Linked DNA regions of Homo sapiens: region 1 is linked to region 2. The links come from fine-mapping of genetic effects on gene expression. A gene starts in region 2. The other region holds a variant in brackets. All regions are shown on one strand. Distances are between the middles of the regions.

Region 1 (5,387 bases), 39 kb after region 2:
CACCACGCCCAGCTAAGCTGAAACTTTTCTTAAAGGCTTTTGTTTGTTTTTGCAGTTTTACTCAATTATATGCCAGTCCTCTCATCTTTGAAATGTGGGTTTGTGAGAAAACTTTGGAGAGAAAGAAAGAGGCATTCTTCTATTCCCTCACTCCTGATGTTAGATTCCGCTCGTTTTACTCATTCACGAGTGGGTAGGCAGGGCTTTCTTTTTAAATTCCTGTGCCATATTGCCTCCTGATTTGCCAACCCATTATTTGCTGATTATTATTTATGCCTATTAAGTGACAGGCACTCCATAAATCTTTCTACTTGGCATTTATTGGGCTTTCTTTATACCATTTTCATTGTTTAGTCAGTGTAGATTTTTCAATCTTGTTAACAAAAGTATGACTAAGTATTGTACAATACTTACTGCAGTATATTATGGTGCTTATGTAACTATTTGCTCTTCTGTATTGTAAGTACTTAGGAGGCATCTAATGCAGTGACTTCATTTTCTCTTAATTTTTTCTTTTTTTTATTGTTACATGATAGCTTTACATATTTCTTACATACTAGACAATCATCTGTAATCACTTTACTTCTGCCTAAAATATATCATTTAGAATTTTTTTTAGTGACATCTTTTGGAGACAAACTCTTTTATCTTTTATCAAAATGTCTATATGTTTGTCTTAATTCTTGAAAGATATCTTCATGAATATAGAATTTTAGGTTTCTGGGTTTGTTACCAGTTTATTGAAAATATTCTGTTGTCTTCTGGTTACCTTTATTGCTGTTGGAAACTGTTTCTCCTTTGAATGTAATTTGTCATCTACTCCTATCCTCTAGCTGCTTTGAAGATTTTTCTCATTTTTTGAAAGATTATTTGTGGGAACTTCCTGAGGCCTTTTATAAGGTTGTCTTCCTCTAGAACAATCTTTTGGCTTCCCTGGGCCACATTGGAAGAATTGTCATAGGCTACACATAAAATATACTAACATTAATGATAGCTGATGAGCTTAAAAAAAAAAAAGTCTGTGCTTAAATCTCATAATGTTTTGAGAAAGTTTACAAAATTGTGTTGGGCCACATTCAAAGCTGACCTGGGCCACATGCAGCCCGCAGGCCACAGGTTGGGCAAGCTTGCTCTAGAATTTGAACTTACTTCTTAATGGCATTAGAGTCATTACCACTGCAGGGCACTTTAAATTTATTGTTTGAGATTTCTTGTGCCCCTCTGATGAAAATCCACCTAAGGGCTGGCCAGTGCTTACAGCCTATAAATTCTTTACTTTTTATTTATATTTTCCATCTTTTTCTGCTGAGTGCCAAGGCAACCTCACAAAAGGTGTGGAGGAGGATTTTGTTTCTGGTTCACGTCTTCCCTAACGATGTCTAGCCTTTTGGCATCTTGGCTTAATGTTTTGGAGTATCTTAGACTCTCTGTCTTGAGCTGGTTCTAGGCTTTAATTTCTGTCCTTGTACCGTGAGGCTGTCAAAACCACTATTAAGGTTCTCTGGGATTATTAGCAAATGTTCTTAGGGCAAAAACTAATTATATGTTCGACTTAGCTTTTGGTTTGGGAATTCCTTATTGTCTTGCCAACTCTTTAGGGAGATATTTTATATATCTTAACCAGTATTTTTGTTTGTTTAGACCAATTAGATTGATCTAAATAACCTAAGCTGTTACTTGAAATTGAAACCCATTTAGCTTTATTCTTGTTTGATATAAATATATGTAGTATCTATGGTTATTTTGCCCTTTTCTTTCATTCTTTTTTTTTTTGAGACAGGGTCTTGCTCTGTCTCCTACACTCAAGCCATTCTCCTGCCTCAGTCTCCCAAAGTGCTGGGATTACAGGTGTGAGCAATTACACCCAAACCTTTTCATTTTTGATATTGCTTATTTGTGTCTCCTACCTTTTGTCCTGATACATTTCATCAGAGGTTGGTTAGTTTTATTGTCTTTTCAGACAACCAACTTTATTTGCCTTCACTATGGTAGGTTTGTTTTTTATTTCAGAATGTGTTAATTTTATTTCTTTGTTCTGCTTTTTTTTACGCTAACTTATTGAAATGGAGTTAGCCTATTGAATACCCTATTTAGCCTATTCAATTTAATAGGCTGAATTCTTAGGCTATTTTTAGCCTTTCCTTTTTATCTGATACAATTATTTAGGTGTGTAAATATCCCTCTAATTGCTACTGTAGTTTTATTCCACATTCTCTTTAATGTGGTATTTTCATTATTCAGTTCAAAATATTTTCTAAATTTTGTTATGATTTTTTTCTTTGGTCTGTGAATTATTTAGAATTATATCCTTTGTTACTTATAATATTTATTATATTCCAAACATGCAAAGTTTTCTAATTGTCTTTTCAGTATTAATTTTTAGCATAAATACGTCAAGGTCAGAGACTATGCTGTAAATAATTTCAGTTCTTTGAAATTTATATAGACTTTTTTTTAAATGGTCCAATATATGCTGAATTTTTAAAAATGTTCCATGTGTATACTGCTGTCTTCATTGTTATTAGACGGGATATTCTTTGTTTTTCCATTAGGTCAAGGTTGTTAATAAGTTGTCCAAATCTTCTGTACTCATTTTTGGTCTGCTTATCTCAATTATTATCAGAAGAATGTTAAAATCCCCACAGTTTAATCATAGATCTGTCTTTATTTGAAGCTCTGTCATTTTTACTTTATACAATTTGAAATGCTAAAATTAAATATATGTTCTCCTGGTGAAGTGAAGGCTTTTGTTCTTATCATTACGAGGTGTGGAGAAATGTGTAAAATATGTATATATTTAGATGATTATTAACCTGGTTAAAGTCATTATGAACGTGACTTTATAGTATATTTCTTTACAGTTCATTATGTTTATAATTAATATAGCTATGGCAGCTTTCTTTGGTATGTTTATAGTCAACTTTTTTGTATCCCTTTTTTTTTTTTTCAAACTTTCTGGAGTCTTTTAGATGTCTCTTGTAAATAGCATATATTAACTTTTGTTTATTTAGTCTGATAGTTTTTAATTAATTGAAGCCTTTC[G/A]TTAGTCTGTTTACATTTGTTATAATTACCAAAGTATTTGGATTTATTGTCATATTATTTTGTGTTTTCTTTTTGTCCTTCCTGTTCTATTTTTTAATATTCTTTTAAATTCTGTTGTTTTAAATTTCATTAATTTCTTTCTAATAACTAGATTTATTAATTTATCAGACTTAATAAATTTATTAATTAATAAAATAATTACACATTATTTTAGCTATTCTTTTAGTGTTTACTCTAGAAATTACCAGAAGCACATTGGTTAATGTCTAAAGTTAATCAATAATTTTGTCTATTTATTAGATAATTCAAGGCCCTTGAAACGCAAACTCTAATTACCTTTCTTCTGATTTATATATTCTAATTCTGGTCATTTCTCTGTTTTTGTTTTTAAAAACCAAAATATATTATTCTTGTTTTATAAGGCCAGTATTCATTTACCCACATATCTACTATTTACAATGTTCTTTATTCTTCCTAGCATCTCAGCTCTTCCATTGGGGAACATTTTTCTTTTATCTCAGATGTATCTTTTAGAATTCTCTATAGAAAAAGACTGGTGATGGTAAACTCTCTTAGGTTTGTTTGAAGATACTGGCCTTGTTTACACTGGATATAGAATTCTAGGTTGACAGTGATTTTCTCTGAGCCTGTTGGGGATGTAGTTATAGTCAGCTGCCACTCCCACTCATACTTTTTTTGGGGGTAATATCTTGTTTCTTTTTGTCTAATTTTAAATATTCTCTTTCTCTGACATGTTCTGAAGTTTTTCGATGATGAATCTCCGTCTGAGTTTCTTTGTATTTACTTCTCTTGGATTTACAGTGCTCCTTGAAACCTGTCTGTTGCTATCTTTCATCAGCTTTGAAAGTTTTTCAGCTGTTACTTTTTCAGATCTTGCTTTGCCTTGCTTTATTTTCTCTTTTTGGAAATACATTTGTAGCCGGCCACCGTGGCTTATGCCTGTAATCCCAGCACTTTGGGAGGCCGAGGCAGGCAAATCACCTGAGGTTGGAAGTTCGAGATCAGCCTGACCAACATGGAGAAACCCCCTCTCTACTAAAAATACAAAAAATTTGTCGGGTGTGGTGGCACATGCCTGTAATCCCAGCTACTCAGGAGGCTGAGGCAGGAGAATTGCTTGAACCCGGGAGGCAGAGGTTATGGTGAGCTGAGATTGCGCCATTGCACTCCAGCCTGGGCAGCAAGAGTGAAACTCCGTCTCAAAAAAAAAATACATTTGTACGTGTGTTAGACATTTTTACTGCACTCTTTTATTTTCTTCATATTTTCCATCTCTTTGGTTCTCTGTACTTCATTTTTAAAAATGTCTTTTTATCAGCTATTCTATAAATGTTATTTTTAACTGTATCTGTTAAGTTTGGATTTCAATTATTATATTTTTCATATATGGAGATTTTCTTTGGTTCTTTTTCAAATCTGCCATTTCTTATTCCTTGCTTTTTTTACTTTAAACATGTTGATTAAATTATATGGGCTCTGCCTTCAAAATGTATCCAAGTTCGGACCATCTCATGCTTCCACATTAACTACCGAATAATTTCCCTTCAGATTCTCTGGTTCTCTCCTTCTTCCTCTTCAGCTCATTGTGATCCTTCATAATCACAAGTAGGATCAATCTCTAGTGGCTTATATCTCAGAGTAAAAGGCAGAGCCCTTACCATAGTCTACAAGATGTCATGTGAACTGGAACTTGATAACTTTCTAACCTAATAATCTCTTGCCACTCTTTCACTCTCTGTGCTGTGGCCATACTGGTTTTTTGAGTATTCTTTTTAAAGTGCCATGCATGTTCTTCACCTGTGTTGTACATCTGCTGTTCCCTCTGCACAAAATGTTTCCTTACCAGCACTGCTTGCTCTCCAACTTTCCTTCAGGTTTCTGCACAGATGTTCTATTATCAGTGAGTATTTTCTTGACTTGTTTCATATAAAATACCAGTCTCCATTCCTTTATTCCCTGAAGTCCCAGTTTCCCCTTTAACTTTATGTTATTCAGTTATTACCATTTGAACAGTTTGCTTTACTGTTTTTGTATTATTCTGTCTTTACTCCCTCTCCTTCTAGAATATTAGCTTCAAATTGTAGGAAGTTTGACTTTAAAAAACCACAGGTGTGTTTCTAATATCTAGTACAGTCTTTAGTACATAAGTTCTCAATAAATATTTGTTGAATAAATAAATGATTATAAAGTGTTATTCAAGGGACTGCCCTTGTGGTAAAGAGGTACTGTCATTTTAGGAGAGTCTCAAATCTAATTACGTTAGATTTTTTAGAATTCTCTATAGTAAAAGGCTGCTAATGGTAAACTCTCCCAAGTTTGTCTGA
Region 2 (5,387 bases):
ACGTTTTCCCCATTGTCTTGGAGAATAACATTTGGCTCCAAATTACTTAGGCAAATTTCTGCAGCTGGTCTGAATTTCTCCTCAGAAAATAGGTTTTTCTTTCTTATCACATTGTCAGGCTGCAAATTTTCCAAACTTTTATGCTCTGCTTCCCTTTTAAACATAAGTTCCAATTCCAAGCCATATTATTTGTGAATATATAAAACTGAATACTTTTAACAGCACCCAAGACACCTCTTGAATGCTTTGCTGCTTTGAAATTTCTTCTGCCAGATACCCTAAATCATCTCTCTCAAGTTCAAAGTTTCACAGATCTCTTTGCTAAAACATAGCAAAAGTCACCTTTATTCTAGTTCCCAAAAAGATCATCTCCATCTGGGACCACCTCAGCCTGGACTTCATTGTCCATATCCCTATCAGTAATTTAGTCAAAGCCATTCAACAAGTCTCCAGGAAGTTCCAAACTTCCCCACATTTTCCTGTCTTCCTATGAGCCCTCCAAACCATTCCAACCTCTGCCTGTTACCCAGTTCCAAAGGTGCTTCCATATTTTTGGGTATCCTTATAGCAGCACCTCCCAGTAGCAATTTACTATATTAGTCTGTTCTCATGCTGCTAATAAAGACACACTCAAGACTGGGTAATTTATAAAGGAAAGAAGTTTAATTGACTCACTGTTCAGCATGGCTGGGGAGGCCTCAGAAAACTGATCATCATGCTAGAAGGGGAAGCCAACACAACCTTCTTCACATAGAGGCAGGAAGGAGAAGTGCTAAGCAAAAGGGGGAAAAGCCCCCTATAAAACCATCAGATCTTGTGAGAACTCACTCACTATCATGAGAACAGCATGAAGGTAACTGCCCCCATGATTAAATTACCTCCTACCGGGTCCCTCCTACAACACGTGTGGATTATGGGAACTACAATTGAAGATGAGATTTGTGTGGGGACACAGCCAAACCATATCATTCATATATATAATTTTAAAAGTATTCTTACAGAACCAAAGAAAGGCTGATATATACTTCTTGTGGCAACAGAAGCAGAAGTAGGGAAGACTATTCAGACAGATTGGCTCTCTAGAGTATTGAATTTACTTTATTGCTGCACTAGTTTGCTAGGGCTGCTGTAAAAAAGCACCACAAATTGGGAGGCTTAGAACAATAGGAACTAACTGTCTCGCAGTTCTAGAGGCCAGAAGTTCAAAATCAAGGTGTCAGCAGTGCGACAGTCCTGTGAAGGTGCTAAGAAAGGATCTGTTCCAGGTCTTTCTCCTAGCTTCCAGTAGTTCCTTGGCTTGTGGCAGCACAGTTCCAATCTTTACATGGTATTTTCCCTGTATGTATATGTATTTCTGTGTCTAAATTTCTCCACTATATGAGGCCACCAATCACACTGGATTAGGGTGCACCCTAATGACCTCATCTTAACTTGAGCATGTACAAAGACCTTATTTCCAAATAAGGCCACATTTATAGTCATTGAGAGTTATATGATTTTGGGGACACACAATTCAACCAATAAGAATTGCCATCTCCTTCTTTCTTTTAACTTTGCCAAACACACTGGTGGCCAACAGCACTCACTCACTCACTCATTCATTCATTAAATAAGCATTTGCCTATGTCAGGCTCTGTTCTGGTGTTGATGCAAAAAATAAAAACAAAAGAAAACTGAATACAGACCCAGTCCTTGAGAAATCACACTTCAGAGGGAATCAGAGGCACATTATTATGATAATAAGTACTATTACTGAGTTGGTATTGCTAGGAATGGGCACTTTTCAACTAATTTTCACGGTAGTGTGAAAAGTGATGTAACAGAAACATACTTGGAGAACCCAGGGAGGTCCTAAATTTGCCCTAGGGATCAGGAATACTTTCAGAAATTAGTTATTATTTCATCTGAGTCTAAAGGGATGCGTAGAAATATCCTAGGTAGCTCAAAGGTGGTAATATTGAGTACTGGATTCCAAAGAAGAGTATTTTATAGAGGAAAAAACAGCAAAGGTTAAGAGACAAATTGTAAACCCCAGGAGGGGTGGGGTTTTAGTCTGTTTTATTAAGTATCTCCTGTATCTCTAGTGCTTTGAACAGTGCCTAGTTCATTCAAAAAGTAATCATTGAATGAATTTAAGGGCATCATATATCTAAGGGATGCCATGGCCTGCAGTTCACTGTCGCTGGAAAAGTAGACAAACGTCCAGTTTCAAAGAGACCGGTAAACTACATTAAATGTAAGAGACGAGGGGTGAAAGGTTGATGATATATATCGCTAGTATTAAAAAAATTCCAGGAAGTCCAGGAATGCCTGGCATCCGTCCTGCCAATTACCCTTTTCCCCAGAGTATGTACAAGGGGGAGGAGGCACCCAAGGGCCAGGAGAGTGGAGGGGCACAGCTCCACAATCTCCAAAGTAGGGTTCTCTGGCCAAAGCAGGATTGAAGCACATGGTTTGGACTTGAAATGTACGTGGAGCCTCCCACTCTCCTCCTTCCACTCCATCCTCCCCTCACTCTCCGCCCGACTCCACCACTGGCTCCTGAAGGAAACCGGACAATTTCCAGGCCCTCCCCAAATCCCACGGGAGGAATCGCCGAGCGCGCTCCTGCCCGCCGGCCCCGCCCCCTTACCCTCTGGAACGCAGCGAGAGCGCACGCGCGCCTAACGGAGCAGCGCGCGCGCCCGCAAGCTCCCCGCATCCCCGTGCTCATCCGGGTCTCAGCGAGCCTCGGCCAATGGTGGCCGCTCATGGCCCTTGGGGGCGGGGCTAAGCCTTCCCTCACAAGGGGCCTGTGGTCAACGCGATTTGCTTCCAAGGGACGGCCACCAGTCGGCACAGGAAAGGGGCAGAGGCAGTGAGTTCAGCGTGTGGACGAGGGTCAACAAGTTTGGGATCAAGCGGCTGCCGCTCCTCCAAAAGCGACCGAAGCGCGAGCAGATTACCCCTCCGAGCCAGTGTAGTAAACACACTTCAGAAACGTGAGGTGCCGGTGGTCACGAGGGGAGCGCGCCCTCCAATGAGGAGCCGGGGGCGGGGCCGAGGCCGCTGACGCGGCGGCGGCGGCAGAGTCACCCGGGCAGCCTCGGGACCGGTCACCGGCCGGCAACCGTCCAGCGGCCTCGACCACCGCCTCTAGCCTCCGTTCCCGGTCCTTTCTCCCGGGCCGAGAGACAGCGTCGCCGACAGGGGCTCATTCCCCTCCGGTTCTCCTCGGTGACTCACCTCGGGCGGGCCGTTTTGTCTTTAGGGGCCGCCTTGGTGGGGCGAGGTTTCCGTGACGAATCTCCTGGGGCCGTCCGTGCCGGCTCGGGCCGTCGTGGCGGCTCGAGCTCCTGGAACTTGCTCAGGCTCCGGAGGTCCGAGGCCCTCGAAGTTATGCGTCGCCTCCAGGCGGTTGCGGCGGGCGCGGGCTCCTAAAGGGCGTCACACCCGGACTCCGCCGACTAGGCAACCTCCATTCATCTTTCCACTGCGCCTCCGGCGCCCCCGCCTTCTCCGGTCCCCTCCTCGGAGTCATTTTTTCCTGTTCCCCCTCTGCCGCCCTTTCCTCACGCCCCGGGTGAGGCAATTCTCTTGGAAGCGAAGGTGTCGGCTATGAGCCGGAGCCTCCTTCCTTGAATTTCTCCGTGGAGGACCCGCCGCGCCCCCCGGCATGGGGGTGAACGCCGTGCACTGGTTCCGAAAGGGGCTCCGGCTCCACGACAACCCCGCCCTGAAGGAGTGCATTCAGGGCGCCGACACCATCCGCTGCGTCTACATCCTGGACCCCTGGTTCGCCGGCTCCTCCAATGTGGGCATCAACAGGTGGCGGTGAGTCACAAGCCCGTGGGAAATGGATTTGGGTGTTTAATGAGTCTGATGTTAATGAATTCCATGCGATCCGCCAAATCTGTGAATTTAGACGTGGGACTGTCTTGCTTATACCGCTTACGAATTTTAGGTGCCCTAAGTATTAAATAGAATTGACTTAATACTTCTCTGGCCAAAGAGTACTGACGACCTGAAACACTCGGTCTTCATCAGTGAGTTATGTGTCTTTCTGTGCTAACTGGAGCTCCTCCCCTGAATTTGTGGAGAATTCTTAGTGCTGGAGTTAAAGAAACACCTTTCCTGTCCTTAGTGGCCATTGTATATGGATTCCCTTGGCCTTTTTGTGGCATTCGGAAGGATTGTGATGTTTCCTGTTTACGTTTGTGTCTAGGTAACTCATAGTATGGAGAAAAATCATTCATTCAGTACAGCAGGCTCCAGATCCAGTGTTCTTCCACCTTGAGGTTACTGTGGGAAAAGCAAGGGAAACAGCATTATCTGGTTTCTCTGCTCGGTTCTTTTTCTCAACTCCTCCTTGTGGTTGCCGAGACAAAGCACAGTTTTTCTTTCTAGGCAAGTTGTAGTCCTTCTAGGGATCAGAGCACTGAAAGAAATCTTAGAGATGCTTTATGATCTTTTCCTGAAACACCAGGCTACATGATTGTTAGGCCCCCTGGTGGAAATAAAAGCATAGCTCAACAGATAGACTCTTGATCACTTAGCATGTGCCAGGCACTGATTTAAATGCTAGGGATATAGCAGTGAGTGAAAGACAGAAAGTCATGTCTTCAAGCAGAAAGTAAAATATGTAGTATTTTAGGTGGTGATAAGTATTGTGGAAAAAAATAGAGCAGAGTAAAGGGATAAAGAATACAAGGGTAGGGATGGGGTTGCAATTTTAAGTATGATCGGGGGAAAAGTCACAGAGAAGGTGACACTTGAGCAGACCTGAAGGAGGTGGTGGGATGCAGATATCTAAGGGAAGACCATTCCAGGCAAAGGGAAGAGTAAGGGAAAAGGCAGAAATATGCTTGACCTTTGGAAGGAACAGCAGAAGAATCCAGTATGTCTGGAGCAGAATAAGTGAGGGAAAAATAGTAGACGATGAGGTCAGAGTTGACTTAGGGCCAGATTGAAGAGAGCCTTATAAGCAGTTTTCAAGATTTGGGTTTTTACTTAGTGAAATGGGAATAACTGCAGGATTATGAGCAGAGAAGTAATGTGATCTGACATAAGTTTGGAAAAGAATTTTTCTGCTTGTGGTTCTGAATTGGGGAGTGGAGGTGGACAAGAAGCAGGAAGTCCAATTAAGAAGCTGTTGGCATTCATCCAGGTGAGAGATGATAACGGCTTGAATCATAGTAATAATCGTGGACGTGGTGAGAAATAAACAGATGCTGGTTATATTCTGAAGGCAAAATACAGGGTATTTGTTGGCAGATTGGATATGTAGTGAGAGAGAAAGAAAAGGAGTTAGGCTGGGCGCGGTGGCTCATCCCTGTAATCCCAGCACTTTGGGAGGCTGAGGCCAGGAGTTCGAGACCAGCCTGGCCATCGTGGCAAAACCCTGTCTC

What was found. PIP is the estimated chance that this variant, and not a neighbour inherited with it, causes the effect.
Region 1: its variant is fine-mapped to the expression of CRY1 in blood mononuclear cells (TOPMed, PIP 0.98).

What each region holds. Positions count from the first base shown.
Region 1 is chr12:107,052,211-107,057,597 of GRCh38, reverse strand. The region is part of intron 1 of CRY1 (cryptochrome circadian regulator 1); the gene reads left to right. Among named protein-coding and RNA genes, the nearest start is that of CRY1, 39 kb to the left of the region's middle. The variant G/A (reference allele first, on the strand shown) is at 3,043.
Region 2 is chr12:107,091,230-107,096,616 of GRCh38, reverse strand. It overlaps CRY1 (cryptochrome circadian regulator 1), which reads left to right and starts at 3,068. Exons shown (of 13, transcript NM_004075.5): 1 at 3,068-3,813. The coding sequence starts at 3,656. RefSeq lists silencers at 2,597-2,676, 3,007-3,236 and an enhancer at 2,777-2,926.